Linked DNA regions of Homo sapiens: region 1 is linked to region 2. Evidence: fine-mapped expression QTL. A gene starts in region 2. The other region holds a variant in brackets. All regions are shown on one strand. Distances are between the middles of the regions. Region 1 overlaps IQCB1 (IQ motif containing B1). Region 2 holds the start of HCLS1 (hematopoietic cell-specific Lyn substrate 1).

What was found. PIP is the estimated chance that this variant, and not a neighbour inherited with it, causes the effect.
Region 1: its variant is fine-mapped to the expression of HCLS1 in lymphoblastoid cells (TwinsUK, PIP 0.95).

The regions. Positions count from the first base shown.
Region 1 is chr3:121,797,514-121,806,156 of GRCh38, reverse strand. It overlaps IQCB1 (IQ motif containing B1), which reads left to right. Exons shown (of 15, transcript NM_001023570.4): 8 at 6,783-6,961. Among named protein-coding and RNA genes, the nearest start is that of IQCB1, 33 kb to the left of the region's middle. The variant G/AAG (reference allele first, on the strand shown) is at 4,347.
Region 2 is chr3:121,657,152-121,665,703 of GRCh38, reverse strand. HCLS1 (hematopoietic cell-specific Lyn substrate 1) reads left to right here and starts at 4,801. Exons shown (of 14, transcript NM_005335.6): 1 at 4,801-4,884; 2 at 7,357-7,440; 3 at 8,352-8,425. The coding sequence starts at 7,357. GOLGB1 (golgin B1) reads left to right here. Exons shown (of 22, transcript NM_001366282.2): 21 at 673-778; 22 at 1,090-2,503. The coding sequence ends at 1,224. RefSeq lists enhancers at 4,529-4,578, 4,769-4,958.

The DNA of each region.
Region 1 (8,643 bases), 140 kb before region 2:
ACTTCTGATCAAGATGGAATAGTAGGGATGCATTTATCCTCCCACCTGAAAAAAAGGACAAAAACATGACACATAATTTTTTGAGAAACTGGGTATCAGTCAGTGAAAGAAAGTAAGCCCAGAGAAAAAGGAATAAACAAGGTGAATCTTACAATTGCTCTAACTTACAGTATTGAGAGAGTTTCCAGGTTGAAGTATAGGGAGAGGCATCCCAGCCAGCTTGAGTTGAAGTGATAGAGCTCAGAGTCTGGAGAGAACAAGATAACTAGAGTTCACAAGTCAGAATACTAGAGAAGAGAGCTATACATGTAGAGAACCCCAGAGATCTGCAGAGGGTATCCTTCAAGTATTAAGTAGAGTACTGATCTGCACATTGTAAGGAATACCCAATGCCAGGGAAAACAATAATCCAAAAGGATTAAAAGGAACAGTGCAAGGAGCTCACACAGGGCCAGAAATAGTGCCTGTTTCCAACAGCCAAACTGGAAAGCCTCATAAACAGTGCGTCATTGGGTAGAGTGTTCAGGAAGGTTTTACTCCAGTAGTGAGGAATAATTAGCATTAGAATGAGCACTATTCCAGATCATAAAAGCAAGACCCAAAAGGGTCAAACTGTTTCCAAGTAACTTAACTGCATGTGGTTATTGAACCTGGCTGTATTTTAAAATTAATTTTATTGTAGGTTATACAAAGGTAGGAAGTTCACTAGAAATGGCTATCCTTCGATTTGGCTTTAAAAAGGATGAGAAAAATCCCACTTGTGCCATCATAGAATATTTGCTTTGATGACTCTTTTTTTCTATTTCTTTATTACTGTAAAATGACTATTTCTTGCAGTTACTGATAACTACTTGCAGTACTGCATGTATCTTGCAGTACTGATACATGATAGATTATACAGTCATGACTATGCTACAAAACATACTACGATTCAACGGGTGATTTGATTTTACTGGTACTGAAGTACTGGGCATGCAAATAAACAAGAAAACAGGATCTAAAATGAGAAGAATTAATCAAGACTGGTACATATGTTGGAATTAACAGACAAGGACACTAGTTATTATAACCATACTCCATATATTTAAAAAGTTGAATACAGACATATAAGACTCAAAGTGAATTTCTAGACATGAAATCTACAATATCTGAGATGAAAAATACACTGGATGGGATTAACAGCAGATTAACATTGCAGATTAGTGAACTTTAAGGCGTATCAGTAGAAACTATCCAAAATGAAACAAAGAAGAAACAAGAGGAAAGAAAAGCATATCAGTGAACTGTGGGACAACTTGAGCAACCTTACATAAGTGTAATCAGAGTACGTAAAGCAGGCAGTAGGGTCACAAAAAAATGTGTGAAGAAGTAATGACTTAACATTTTCCAAATTTGATGAAAACTATAAACATGCAGATGCAAAAAGGTCGTCAAACCCTGAGGGCAATAAATATGAAGAAAATTCCACATTGAGGCACATCGTAATCAAAATGCTCAAACCAGTGATAAAGAGAAAAATCTTAAAAGCAACCAGAGATGAAAAAACATTATATAGAGAAATAGAGATAAGGATGACAGCAACTTTCTTATCAGAAACAACACAAGTAAAAAGACAGTTGAATACTGAAAAAGAAAACTGTCAAATTAGAATTACATGCTCAGCAGAAATATATTCAAAAGCAAAGATGAAATACTTCTTCAGAAATCACCAGCAGACCAACACTACAAAAAATATTCAAGGAAGTCCTTCCATCAGAAGGGAAATTCATCTACACAAAGAAATAGAGTATCGGAAATGGTGATTACATAAACATATAAGATAGTTTTTCTTATATTATTTTAATATATCTATAATATGTTTGCCTACACAAAAATAATGCTGTATTTGAGGAACATATGTATAAGTAGAATGTATTCCAAAAGGGCATTAAGGCTGGGAGGAGATAAATGGAAGTATACTGATGTAAGACTCTTATACTATACATGAAGTGGTATAATATCACTGTGATAAGTGATAAGACTGTGAGAAATTGAAATGTATACTTTGAACCTCAAAGCAGTGAAGAAAATAGCAAAACAAAGAATTTACAGCTGATAAGCCAACAAAGGCAATAAAAATTAATCATTAAAAAATACGCAATCCAGAAGAAGGAAGTAAAAAAAAAAGAAGAACAAAGGAGAAACAAAACCAAGTGGTAGATTTAAACCTATCTATCTTAGATGTAAATGTGGAAAAACTAAAGTTAAAAGACAGATTGACAGATTGGATTTAAAAAGTACAAGCCTACTATATGCTGTCTACCAGAAATGCACCTTAGATATAAAGACACAAGTAGGTTAAAAGTAATGGGGTGGAACAAGATATACCGTGCTTATACCACAGAAAGTTGAAGTACCTGTATTAGTATCAGATAAAGTAAGTTACAGAACAAAGAATATTTCTAGTGCTAAAGAAGGTTATTTCATAATCATAAAAAAAGTCAGTTCATCAAAAGGATGTGTTTATTGACCTAATAGAGTTTTAAAATACACAAGCAAAAATTGACAAGAACTACAAGGAGAAATCCTCAATTAAAGCAAAAGATGTTAATATACCTCTTTTGATATTTAATAGAATAAGTAGACAAAAAAATTAGTATGACCACAGATTTGAACAATAATATCAACCAATCTGACCTGATTGACATTTTACAAATATTCTACCAAACAGTAGCAGAATACATGTTCTTTTCAAATGCAGATGGAACATTTACAAAGAAGGGTGCATATTCCGAGCCATAAATAAAGTCTCAAGAAACACAAAAGGGGCCGGGCACGGTGGCTCACACCTGTAATCTCAGCACTTTGCTGAGGTGAGCAGATCACTTAAGTCCAGGAGATCCAGACCAGCCTGGGCAGCATGGCAAAACCCCATCTCTACAAAAAGTACAAAAAATTAGCTGGGCATGGTGGCAGGTGCCTCTAGTCCCAGCTACTTGGGATGCTGAGGTGGGAGAATCTCTTGAGCCCAGGAAGCAGAGGTTACGGTGAGTTGAGATCACATCACTACACTCCAGCCTAGGCAACAGAGCAAGACCCTGTCTCAAAAAAAAGAAAAAAGCAACGTAAAAGGATTTCAGTTATACAAAGTATGTTCTCTGGCCTCGATGGAATTAAGTTGGAAATTGATGCCAAGAAGATCTCTGAAAAGTCCCCAAATATGTGGGAAATAATAACATTCATCTAAATAACTCACAAGACAAAGGAGAAATCAAAAGTGAAATTAGAAATTATTTTTAAATGAATGGAAATAAAAACAACATGAGAATTTCTGGGGAAATTCTTAATTAAAGCAGAATGATACTTAGGGGAAATTTATATCACTAATGCCTATATATTAGAAAAGAAGAAAAATCTCAAATCATTGACCTCGGCTTTCCCCTTTAAGAAACTAGGAAAAGAAGGGGGAATTAAACTCTAAGCAGAAGAAAGAAAATGATAAAGGTTGAGCAGAAATCAATAAAATTCTAAGCAAACGTGATAGAGAAATAAACCATAAACTGGATCTTTGGGAAGATTGAAGTTTTTTGAGAAAACAAACCATAAACTGGCTCTTTGAGAAGAAACCTGTAGCAAGATTAATATGGAAAGGAAAAGACATAATACAAATGACCAATCTCAGGAATTAGAGAGGTAACATCGTAACAGAGTCTACAAATACTAAAAATATCACAAGGGAATAATATAAACAACTTTATGCTTATAAATTTAACAACTTAGATCAAATGGACAAATTTATTGAAAGACGCAAACTACCAAAATTTACTCAAGGAGCAATAGAGAACCCAAATATACTCTAGATAGCTATAAAAAAAAATTGAATTTGTAGCTAAAAACCTTCCCACAAAGAGAACTCCAGGTCTGGATGGCTTTTTCACTGTGAATTCTATTAAGCACTTCAGGAAGAAATAATAATCTTAAGCAAACTTTTCTAGAAAATCGAAAAGGAGGAAACACTTACAACTCATTCTATAAGGTCAGCATTATCCTGATACCAAAACCAAACAAAGACATTATAAGAAAAGAAAACTACTCATCAGTATATTCATAAACATAGATAGAAATGTTCTGAACAAAATTTTATAAGTCAAATTCAACAATATATTAAAAAGTTAATACGTCATGAATAATTCTGGTTTATCCCGGCATTCAGGGCTGGTTTAATATTCTGAAGTCAGTCATTGTAACTTATGTTAACAAGCTAAAAATGGAAAAAACATACCATCATATCAGTAGATACAGAAAAAGCTTTTGACAAAATCCATTATCTAGCCCTGATTTTAATTAAAAAAAAAAAAAAAAAAAAA[G/AAG]GCCTTGCAGCAAAGTAGTAATACAAGGGAACTTTCTCAGAAAGCAGATCGGTGGTTTCCTGGGCATAGAATGATAGGGAAGGCAACAAGGGAGGAACTACAATGAAATACAAGGAAGCTTTTAGGGGTGATAGATATATTCATTTTCTTGTTTTATGTTGGTGAAACATGTCAAACTGATGAAATTATATGCTTTACATATATGCAGTTTGTTGTATATCAATTATATTTTTAAAAAGCTGTTTAAAACAAAAATTATGATGACTTGGTGAATGTTTTGATATGGGGTAGATAAAATAAATGGTGCAGTCAGATATGATACCAAGTTTTCTGTATTGGGTGATTAGACTGTGGTATGTGGAATATATAAGAAGTTGGTTTTGTGAGACAGATGATTAATTCAATGTTGGTTATGTTGAGTATAGGTAGTTCAACATGCAGTAAAAGTAAGTATCTATATAAAGACTTATACACAAATGTTCATTGAGCTTTATTTGTGAAAAACAAGGACTAGCTAAAACTCAAATGTCCATCAGGTGAATAGGTAAACTAACTTCTGGAAGAGATTGGGACTAGAGTTACAGATTTACAAATCAGCTTATACATGGTAGAGAAAAACATGACAGAAAGTGAGATTAGTAGGAAGTGTGAATACAATGAGAAAATAAATGGCTTGAAAATGGAGTCTTGGGGAATAACCTTTTAGGGTTATACTGGGGAAGTGGAGCCCACAAAGACAAATGAAAAAGAATGGTCAGAAAAGTATGGGTGGAAGGTAGAGGGGAGACCAGAACTTTGTATCACAGAAGCTGAGTAAGTAGAAAGTATCAGATACAAACAAGTCTAGGAAAAGAATCACTTATGGTATATATGTGACTTGACATTTGGGAAGTTATACTGATGAACTTATCAAGGATAGTATAGTGAAATAGTAAAAAATGAAAACTAGATGCAGTGGTTTGAGAAATGAGATGTGAGATAGTGGCAACAGAAATTGGATTAGAAGAGAAGCAGAGAGATAAGATGGTAGTGGTATAGAGAGGATGTCTTTAAGATTAGGAGGTTGAAGAGCATCTAAAAGCATTTAAACTACTGTATTACATTATAGCACAAACTCTTGGTGGGATATGGAGTAAAGATGTGATAAGATTGGGATAGGGATATCTGTAGAAGGCTTTCTGAGATGAGCATATTTTTTAATCTGAGTTTTGAATAGTGTGATGACATTGACTGATGGGACAGGGTGAGCATCCTAGGCATAGGGAATAGCATGTAAGAGACACAGTGGCACAGAAGTAGATGTCACAAAGATTCTCACATATTTTGATTGGATAACTTTATAAAGTCTTTCAACTCAGAGATTTTTACATTTAAGGTATGTTGCTGATCTCTTTTCTCTTAACAAAATTATTTTAGTAACTACTAAAGTACAATTTTCAAAAAGCTCAAACATGAGTCTTATACAAATATAAAATTTGACTGCTCAAAATTTTATGCAACTCATTAATGAGGGAACAAATAAGATATTTATACAGGGTCAAAGGAGAATTTGAGGAAAATAGATTTATGGAGTTGGTTTGTCGAAGAAATGTAGAAGTAAATTTGCTGATAGATTTTTAAAATTTGCTAATAGGAAAATATGACTTATAAAGCAATGTAGCTTCTAGAATTACCTTTTCTACTGGACAGAAATCATTTGTATTGCTTTGAATAAGAGTCTGTTTACATTGCTCTTAGATAAGAATCTTTAGCATTGTTTTCTACCAGCCAACCTCTATTTTTACAGAATTGTAAAGTATTTTAATAGTGAGTAGAAAATTAAACAGAGGTACATACGCCTAGAAAATCACATAACTCCTTAAGGGGGTAAATAAAAGGATACTCACTAACCCTTTCCTTTTGACTATTTCTAAGTTTTAGATAATTTTTCACAACATCAGTAATACAAGATGGGTTGTTAGTATAATGAAGGAAATACCAAGGAAAGATTTTAAGTTTCTCCTATATTAAGCACATGATAGAATTCCTATGGCATTTTTGTCTTTGTACATCATTTAAAAATTAACTGTGTACCTGTCTTGATTTCACTTTTATCATTGCCTTGAAGCTTTTAAATTATTTATTGTTTAGTATTTTGCACATTTATATTTCATCCTTGATTTGATTGCAGGCTTCTCTAAGGAGAAGGCCTTTGGCTACTTTGTATTCTCTATTGTACCTAGCACACATGGCACCTTGCACACAGTAGGAATTCAATAAATATTAAGTGACTGAATATGATATCTTCTTGGAACCAACATATATTTGAAAAAGTGGTTATATTCTTGGATCAGGACACAGTCCGGCATCAAGTTACTGAATCTTATATTTTAGATTTGTTGTGATACCTGTACATCAATTAGTAATGGTACTTTTTTTTTTATTTTGTTCTATTAGTGGTGATTTACTCAGAATAGGAAGAAAAGCCCTGTATTCAATTTTAGATGAAGTTATTTTCAAGCTTTTTTCAACTCCTAGTCCAGTTATAAGAAGTACTGCTACAAAACTCCTACTGTTGATGGCTGAATCCCATCAGGAAATTTTGATTTTACTGAGACAAAGTACCTGCTACAAAGGTAGTACATTCATTCTTTCTTTTCTTGGGATTCTCAAAAAGAAAATTTTTATTGATGGTTTATGAAAAACAAAATTCTTATATTTTAAAGAGTTGATAACTGACCTATGTAGATAAAACTCACAACAGATACCAATTCAGAAAAAAAAAAGTCTTTATATAATCAAGCTATCTTCATGTCACTACAGATAGCATGTGGAAGATACTTTTCTGATCAGGTTGCCATAAATATTTACTCCCTCTCTGACAAAAAGGTTTTGTGTGTTGAATATACCATATAGTATAGTAAAATAATGACCAAAAAGATCAGTGACCTTATCAAGACCAGCTTTAGTGGAGAAAATGGAGCTGTGCTTGAGAGGCCAGTGGCCCTTATGGTATTTTGAACTATCAATAATTACTTAACACTGCCTTTCCTCAAAAACAAACAAAAAAAATTGCCTTACCTCCAAAATCAAATACATATGTGAATTAAAAGTCAGAAATTTTGAGGATAAAAGGAGTAAGCGTATATACATTCTCATATAATAGCTTTCATTTAATTGAGCATTTACTGTGTGTCAGGCACATTCCATATACTTTATATGCATTAAAATGTTTAATCTTTACAACAATCCTATGGGATAGATATTCTTATCCTTATTTTATAGATATAGAAACAGAGACATGGTAATTTGCCCAAGATCACAAAGGTAGTATATATATTGTTTAATTGCCAAGCAAAGTTATATGTTATCTTTGTTTTATTTCTTTGCTGACCAGAGCCATGTATGTATTATAATCTATTTTTCTTATTCAGCGTGGTCAGGAAATGGGATTCTAGTTCATTAAATATACTTATTAACATAGGGTTATACTGTATGGGAATTTTTAAAGGTTAGAATATAATATGATGCATTTAATACCTAAACAACTAGAAAGGTCTTTATCATTCTTGATGATTTTGAAGACATTGTAATAATGTACCTTGAATTAGTCATTACTGAGGGTATTGTAGGAATAGAGAAGGAAAGTACCAGTAATAGAGCTCTTTAGTTGATATTGTGCCAGATAGACATTTTTCAATTCTGTAATTCAATTCCTAAAGAAATGTGAATGTCCAACAGAGTCGTTATAAAGGAATTTTACCTGAATCCTTCTCCCTTTCTTTGACTTATATCTCAATAGCAGAACTTATTCAGATTCCTGAAGATATTTTACAATTATTAATACTGCTGAGAACTTGGGTGTTGAAGAGAGTATAAGGCATTAAAAGATCCATATAGTGGTTTCCCCAATTATACACTACAAGGCAATTTTACCTTATGTATTTATTTTGAATACACACATTATAATACATCATTTCAGTGTACCCTGGAAACAGTACTTACTTTGTACCTTTCACTACTACTATGTATTATTTTGGCATGAAAATGTACTATCCTAGTGTTGTAGCACTTCACCTATAATGTTTTCCCAGGAACCTATTGATTTGCCCCAAATTATATATGTTACCATATGTTTATATTTAATAATCTTTTTCAACTAATAATGACTAATAATAATCTGCATAAGTGCTTCCACAGGGCAAGCATTTACTGAATATGTGTCTGTAGTAATTTATCTTTAAAATGTCTCCATTTAAGTATTTTTGTTCAAATAAAAAAAATTTATCTCTACTTTTTGATTTACCACAGTGATTCC
Region 2 (8,552 bases):
CAGCTCCTTTGTTTGTTTGACATAACCATTGAGTGAGTAATGGCAGCTTCTTCATTAAATGGAGAAGTTCCAGTATTAAATAAGCAAATCAGCAAAAACTGAGCCAGAAGGCAGTGGAGACTGCCAATTCAATTTAATTTTTTTTAGTTCAATTTAATTTTTAAAACCCCACAGAAATCTTCTTTGGATGCTTTTGCCTATTAGCCTTTAATAAAAGAAAAAAATGTAATGAGTTTCTCCAAGTCAGGTGTGGTGTGGTGGAAAAAAGAACGTGAGGCTTGAAAGACAAAGTTGGGTATTGAATTCTGGCTCTGCCGCTTACTGGCTGTGCCGCCATGGGCAAGTAATTTAACCTCTGTAAGCCTTAGCACTTTGAAGATAATAAGACCAACCTCAGAACCTGAGGATTAAATGTATGTAAAGCACCCAGCCTAGAGCCTGATACATAGTGAGTAGGCAGTCAATTCCTGATAGTTATTGTCACATTTTGCTGCTGCTGAAGGAAACGTATCTGCTGGTACCCCCCTTGCATGGGTTTGGGTTTATGGGAGCAGCTTTTGCTGCAAGTCTCCTCCTGTGCTGCATTGTGTGGCAGGATGACTGGGAAGACTGGGCCTGATCAGCCTCTCATGCTATGAACCAATGCTATGCCTCTTTTTTTTCTCAACTCAGGTTAGAGCACAGTGAATGGGACTCTTCCCGGACTCCTATCATTGGCTCCTGTGGCACTCAGGAGCAGGCACTGTTAATAGATCTTACAAGCAACAGTTGTCGAAGGGTAAGAGGAAGAAGGATAAAGAGAGGGTGTTTTATTATCTGACAGGGCTGGCTATACTGGGGGCAAGGAGCTGAGGAGAAGGAATGTGGAAGTCCAGCCACTGAGCAGCGAATGAGTCTAAGGCTGGAAGGGCGTGGAAGATTAGAACCTGGTGGAATTTGCCAAGTTGTTGACTCTGAGGCAACTTTCCTCTCAGAATACCCCTTTCTACAGTGGTTGGGTCAGCTTTGCTTAAGTGCAAGACTAGTAGGAGGGAAAGCAACATAGCCCTATAGGGTGAAAACTCTCTGACTTTCACATTTTTCTTTCAGACCCGGAGTGGCGTTGGATGGAAGCGAGTCCTGCGTTCACTCTGTCATTCACGGACCCGAGTGCCACTTCTAGCAGCCATCTACTTTCTAATGATTCATGTCCTGCTCATTCTGTGTTTTACGGGCCATCTATAGACTTAGTTGTTACTCTTTGGACCACTCCCCTCAAAACTTGGAATTCTCTCACCTCTAACATCAGAACATCAATTCCAGTGGAACAGTCTTCCCATTTACAGGTCTTCTCTCCAACTCTTCACGGAAAGTGCCTGCAAAAACAGAGGTGGATACGAGGACAGGTTGGAGCTGCAGGGACTGGCGAGTCTGCTTTCTTCTACTGCCCTGAGCCTGAACGCTTCTGCTTAATCTGAGAATCACATTTGGTTTGTTGAGCCTAATATTTGTTGAGATTTTGCAGGACCCTGATCTTTTGTGGTCCTGTAAAAGATACTGAGGAATGTCTTTCAGCCAAGCCAAGAGGATGGTTTCAATAAACCTAATAATCTGAAGTTCAGTATCATTTTGATTGATAACTTTCTTTGCCTTGTTTGCCTGTATTTTCTCCTGTTTCAGGGGGAAGGTGGCTCTGCCATAAACAGAGTTCAGGGAAATGAACATGTCACCTCATAGGACATCTGATTTAGGTCTCTTGCAGAATAGGGTGGTGAAAGCTGAAGGAACTCCCTAGGGGTTTTAGCTGTTAGATCACATGGGAGGACAGCATCTTCTTCCCTGCCAATTTCAGATATAATTGGAGGGAGAATTTCAGGTCTTAGACTATAAGGATAGAATCCCTTTGCTTTTGCCCTTGATCACATGTATACTAAGGTATTAAGTGGCCCAAGTCTTTCCTTTCACCAAAGGGCAGGGAGAAGTGTCTATGGACAGCAGGGTTCCAATTCTTGTCATTCCAGGAATATCTGAATATTCCTGGAATGTGGACCCTGAGACAGTGCTCAGGGGCCACTGGGAGCCAATATTAGGCATTGACTCTCAGCCAGGAGTCTGACTGGTCTAACACCACACTGCAACTCCTGACCTCTTGAAGTACTAAGCTACTTTGCTGTTAGTGACAGTTATTACAGTTTCTCAGCCCCATTGTCTCTGCCCTCTGTGGCAATGGAAGGAGAATATAGAGAAGACAAAATTAAATATAGATAGACCTGAGAAGGACAGCCAGGATAGAATTCCATTTGTGCCTATTCCCTGCCTCCCCTCCCCTCCCCCATCCTACCAGTTGGTTATTTTCTCATTGCATACGTGATGTGTTCACTGCCTAGCCTCTCCCTAAAGAAGAGAGAAGACAAGTGGGCTGACTGATCTGCTCTAAATCTACTGTGGTGATTAAATCTTGGTTACAACATCCTGGGAAGTTTCCTGAACAACTGTAAAATAATAAAATTATTTTCAGAATGAAGAGTTTGTGTGTATGTGTGTGTACGTGTGAGTGAATGGATATGTGCACAGGTGTTTCGGTACCTGTGTTTGCATGCTGGGGGGTGGAAGGTGGGTAAGGGAAGTAGGGAAAGGAGGTAGCCAGGAATGGTTATAGGGGTAGAAAGCTCTACATATTCAGGCTTTCTTCTCACTGGCCAATATCAGTGACAGCTGCATGCATTTTTCCAGCCTTAGCTGCTAGACCCCAGGTGATGAATGCAGTGAGGAAATTCTATCCTAATACTGAACCAAATAAGCTGGGCCTTAGGGCATGAAATTGATGCAGGTCCATGCATGGTCCTGGGAGAACTCTTGTCTGGCACATAGTGAAAACATTAGGCCCCTAGGGATCCCTCTGGGTGGGAATGGGAGAAGAGAAGCTTAATAGCATGTAGCAGGTTAGATAGGCATTATTATGTTTTGTTTTGTTTTGTTGGGTTTTTTTTGAGACCGAGTTTCACTCTTTCGCTCAGGCTGGAGTGCAGTGGCACAATCTCAACTCACTGCACCTTCCGCCTTCCAGTTTCAAGCGATTCTCCTGCCTCAGTCTCCCAAATAGCTGGGATTACAGGCACCTGCCACCATGCCCGGCTAATCTTTGCACTTTTAGTAGAGATGGAGTTTCACTGTGTTGGCCAGTCTGGTCTCAAACTCCTGACCTTGTGATCCACCCGCCTCAGCCTCCCAAAGTGCTGGGATTAGAGGTGTGAGCCACCGTGCCCAGCTATTATGGATTTTTATATTAAGTTGCTGCTTGAGAGAAGATAGCTCACTTTCTCAAAGTACAATAAGTGGTTTAATTGAACCAAGTCTGTCTGGCTTCAAGGCCCATTCTTTTTCTGTGTGATACACCTCACTACCTCATCAGTAATGAACTTGTGACATTTGCTAAGGAAAGATGGGACTTCTTGGTGTCATCTCTGATTAATTTCTATATTTTCTCTAGAGAACTATGTACCTGGATGGTGTGTCACATCATCTAGTCTAAATCGTATTTTGACACTACATGAGGATTCCAAGTGATTTTTCTCTTGTACAAACGTACTCTTCCTTATCATAACTTTGGTACCACCATGATAAATAGGTAATAAAGTAGAAGGAATAAATAAAGCTCCCCCAGGCATAGAATCCTTAGATTTGGAAGTGACAGAGGCTTCATATTCCTAATGCAGAAAAGTGCCTGTATCATGGGCCAGTTTCATCCAGTCCTGCTTAAACTCCTTGGAGGATGCACCGTTGTGAACAAATCAAGAAGTCCACAATCAAGATTAGGAAAGGCTAGGTCAGATACAATAACAGACACCCTCAAATTCTCAGTAGCCAAAACAAAGGACTATTTTTTAGTGAAAGACTCCAATTCCCCCACATGGTGGATGGGGCTCCACTTGTGTTCTTTCTCACTCAGGGACCCAGTCTGCTGGAGGAGCCAATATGGAGAATTGCAGGTTGCCTTGGGCAGTGGTGAAAGCATGGCAAAGCTTGCAGTGGTCTTACGGCCTCCGCCAGAAAGTGGTATCTGTCACTGGCCAAAACAAGTCACCTGAGTAAGTCTGACTTCAAGAGGGAAGGGAGGGGCAGCAAGTCTTGACACGCAGTAAAACAGGATACCACAAAGACCTTCTTCCATCAGCTGACCAGCACCTGGTTCTTTCAGAATTCTTCCTACGCTCTAGAGCCAAATCTTTAGTTTGTTAGCTCAGACTCCACAGTGCCCCAAACAAGCTAGGAAACTCTCCTTCCATGTCTTGCCTTTTCCCTCATGAGTTATTCTCTTCTGGCATTCAATTGGTCGACGTTTATTTGAACATCTATATGAAAACTCCACTTTTAAGTGCTGTGGGTAATATAGGGGTGAGTTTCTTTTTAAGTCTTATGCTTCAAAACCCACATATAAATCACTTTTCCCATAAAGCCTTTCTTGATGAATACACCCAATACCAAATGCTCTGAATTCCTTTACTGTCTCAAATGTAACTGCCACCCTATTTAGGACACAATGCTGTTCTACAGCATTCTCTAATGTGTTTTCTGGTTGAATGTTTGTTTCTCTCACTGGATTACAAACTCAGAGTCAAAGCAGCATTTTCTATGACTGCTCTATGACCCCCATTGTCAAAACCTTGCAAAAGACCAGGCACAGAAACATTTAATCCTTTTAAAATTTAAGTGTCTAAAGCAGAAGGAACTGACTCAAATTTCAGGAAGTAGCTGTGAGGATGGGGTGGCAGGAAATGACGAAAACCTGAATACGGAACTGAAGCAGCAGCTCAGTTTCTCACTCCGAAGTGGCAGCAGCCAGAGAGGGAGTCGGTGTGGACGCGAGGAGCCGGGCGCTTAGAACAGAGGCTTGCACAGGTGGAGGTGGGTACTCTGAGCCATGGGACAGTTGGGAAACACAGAGTAAGAGTTGAGGAGGAACCTACCTGGCTCTTAGTCCTTGGTGATGGGCAAGGTCACCACTAGTAGGCTTTTATCCTTTTATGGCCAGAAGGCCTGGTTGTGAGTGGTTGTAGCAAATCAGCATCTGGAGATAGAAACAAAAGGGAGGGGCTTAAACCCAAGGCAAGTGTTTCAGGAGCCATCTAGCACCAACATCAAGCAAAGTGTTGCCTGGTTTCTGCTGACAATCTACAACCCACTCTAAGGCCTGTCTCCCCTAGGTACTGAGCTGGGAGGAGGACCACAGGAGACGAAAACAGTGTCTGCCCTTGAAGAGCATATGGTCTCAGGGAAACAAACCCACACAGGAAATGTAACAGATCAGGAAGTAGTCACTGATGTACACTAGCACTGAGTACCAAGTGCTGATGGAGCCCAAGAGAAGGCATGATTGTTCTGCTGGGGCTAGTTTCTGTGTTCGTAGATCACAGAATCTCAGAATGTCAGAAATCAAGGAGACCACAGATGAGCTACGTTAACCCCTTCATTATTTTCCACTGGGAAAATCAGAGATAATTGCTGATTTGCCAAATTATTAAAGTTAGTATTTCTTAATCGCCTGGTCTGATACCTGGCAAATGAGTACCTACTCTGTTGATGCCCTTGTGATGGTCCCTCAGAGGCTTAGTCACAGAGCTGGGGTGACAGCCAGGGCTTCTGACTCCCAGTCTGTGTACTTTGATGCAGGAGGTCAGCATCGCAACAAGGCCTCACCAGATTACTCTCTGGTTCTCACCTCTAGATAGCACTTCTTACCTTTCTGGTTTCTGGTCAATAGGTCAAGGATATTAGATAAATTGTCTCTATTTCAGAAACTCTTTATTTCAAAAATGGGTGAATGGGAGAGTCAGGCTGAGGCCTCAGAGGAGCCACAGGAAGGAGGATGGGACCATCAGTCCTCATTGCTTCCTTATTGCTCATGACTATTTCAGAAACTTCTCCATTCCAGTTTTCTGTGTGACAGTCCTTTTGTTGTTGCACAGCAGCCCAGGAGCCAGGGGATGAGAAGCAGAGGGGTAGTAAGGATGCAGGTAGTAAGGATGTTTTGCTGTCTCCAACCGCATCAGGGAAAGCCAAGCTGCTTTCAGCCATGACTCCCGGCTGACTCAGTCAATATCTCTCCGGTGTCCCCTTAGCATCTCTTTAACTGATTTACCCAGACTTCCCCTGGGCTGGTTTTTAAGAGGTTGCTCAATGGAGAAGATGGAGCTTTCAAGTGGAAATAGAAAACTGGAGAATCTGAAGGCCTAGGTGGAGACAGGAGAACCCGAGGAGTGGTTGTAAAGGGACTCTTTGGAGACGATGGAGAGCATGGGGAAGGTCTCCAATGGGATGAGGTGTCTGAGGAGGGAAGGATTGCCAGCTAGCAAGTGCTGCCAGGGTCAAGAAGTCTCAGTGGTGACCACAGCAGATGAGCATTGTCTGTTGTTACTTCTTCACACCAAATCCACAGATGCAGAGCAACTGTGCCGCTCTTCCTTCTGCACAGTCCGGAAGGCCGTCTAGAACACTGGGAATGCCCCAGCAGAATAAGTTTGGCACCCTTCCAAGCTAGGGTTCTCTAAATATTTCTGCAACATTTATTTAGTTGATAAAAACTGAGTACCTCTTAATGTTCAAAATCAGATTTATTACATATTATTCTTTTTTCTTTTCTACGGTAAATTGTCAACTTGAAAACATGCTATTTTTTGACTTTAGCAATTAATTGAACCATTTTTAAAAAATTGAGTAATAACTGACTTATTCCCAGCAAATAATGCTCTCCCAATGCATTGTTCCATGTGGAAATTTCAGCCGACTGTCGCTGCTGACCTTACACAGCTGTGAGGTGACCAGACTCAGGGTGGAGGTGGGACAGCACTTGGACCAGAGGCTGGAAAAATTCTCAGTGTAGTTCAGCAGGTTGTAAAGAGGGATGTAGATGTTCACTTTGTGAGAAGCAGAACCAATTTGTATTTCAACAGCAACAAAGGAATCATATATAGAAACCTGAGTGAAATAAGGCCATAATTCTAGGGATATTATAGCACCGCTCATTGCCAACCACCTCCAGCCACTGCCTGGCTGGCCTCGGGACACAAGTGAACAATTCCAGCAATTTTGACTCGTGGGTTACCTAGTGTTACCCACACCCATGATGACTTCTCTCTAGCCCCAGGTGGGCCCAGCCCACATCAATTCGTCTTGATTAAAGTCCCATCTCTCATCTTGTAACTGAGCAGAAAAGCCTTCCTACAACTCCCATTTGCTTTGCTTCATTTTCTATTTTCTTCTAAGAAAAAAAAAATGGCAGGAAATATTGGGCTGCTATATTTTGACTTCAGCATTCCTATTTTCCCTCCTCTTGATCCTTTTTTGTCCCTAATTATTCCCATCTCCGGTCACTCTCAGATGTGGAAGTCTGTAGTGGGCCATGATGTGTCTGTTTCCGTGGAGACCCAGGGTGATGATTGGGACACAGATCCTGACTTTGTGGTGAGTTTGGAAGTAGCTTTGCTTGGACAGTGCAGAGGGTGGGGTGAGGAGGGCATCTGGGCCACTCTGTGATCTTTGAGGATGCTTGGAAAAGGGCCTTCTAGGACTGAGACAGCCCTCATACTGGGACTAATTGGTAGGACAATTGGCTGTCACCTGTGGGGCATGCACGATACCTGGTATCAGGGATGAAAAGAGACAGGTGTGGGTGAGTTTGACAGTGTGATTGACAGGCCATGGCAGGCTACACTGAAGGTGAGAAGCAGGTGAACCTGGGTCTCCCCTGGCCCATGATCCAGGATTCAAGCTGGGCATGTGTAATTGGGGGATTAAAAAGCTGTAGGAGACCAGATGGGGTAGGCATGAAGTAGGCAGAGGAGGAACGGAGGTTTCAGAGCTCACTAGTTTAATTCTTTGTGTTTTCTTGTTTGTTTTTTGAGACAGAGTCTCACTCTGTCACCCAGGCTGGAGTACGGTGGTGCAATCTCAGCTCACTGCAACCTCTGCCTCCCAGGTTCAAGCGATTCTCCTACCTCAGCCTCCCAAGTAGTCCCTGCAGTTGGGACTACAGGTGCATGCCACCACACCTGGCTAATTTTTGTATTTTTTTGGTAGAGATGGGGTTTCACCATGTTGGCCAAGCTAGTCTTGAGCTCCTGACCTAAAGAGATCCACCCGCCTCGGCCTCCTAAAATGCTAGGATTACAGGCATAAGCCACCACGCCTGGCCTCACCAGTTTAATTCTTACATGGGGTCAGGATGGGATAAATATAGAGGGGATGTGAATAAAGACCCAGACTGAAGAAGGCAGTGGACACAGGGGACATGGAGGGCATGTGTCAGTTGGGTGGCCCTTCTCAATGTGGCACATTTCTTGCCGTCATGTATTACTGCGTGCTGTCGTTTGCAGAATGACATCTCTGAAAAGGAGCAACGATGGGGAGCCAAGACCATCGAGGGGTCTGGACGCACAGAACACATCAAGTAGGTGCCGAAAGGACTGGAGAAAAGGAAGGGGGTTATGGGAAGAGCCCAAAGAAAACTCGGAGACTTGGGGGAAGGTGAGGGAGGAAAAGGATAGGGTAGTTCATGTCTATGTATTATTGTGTTT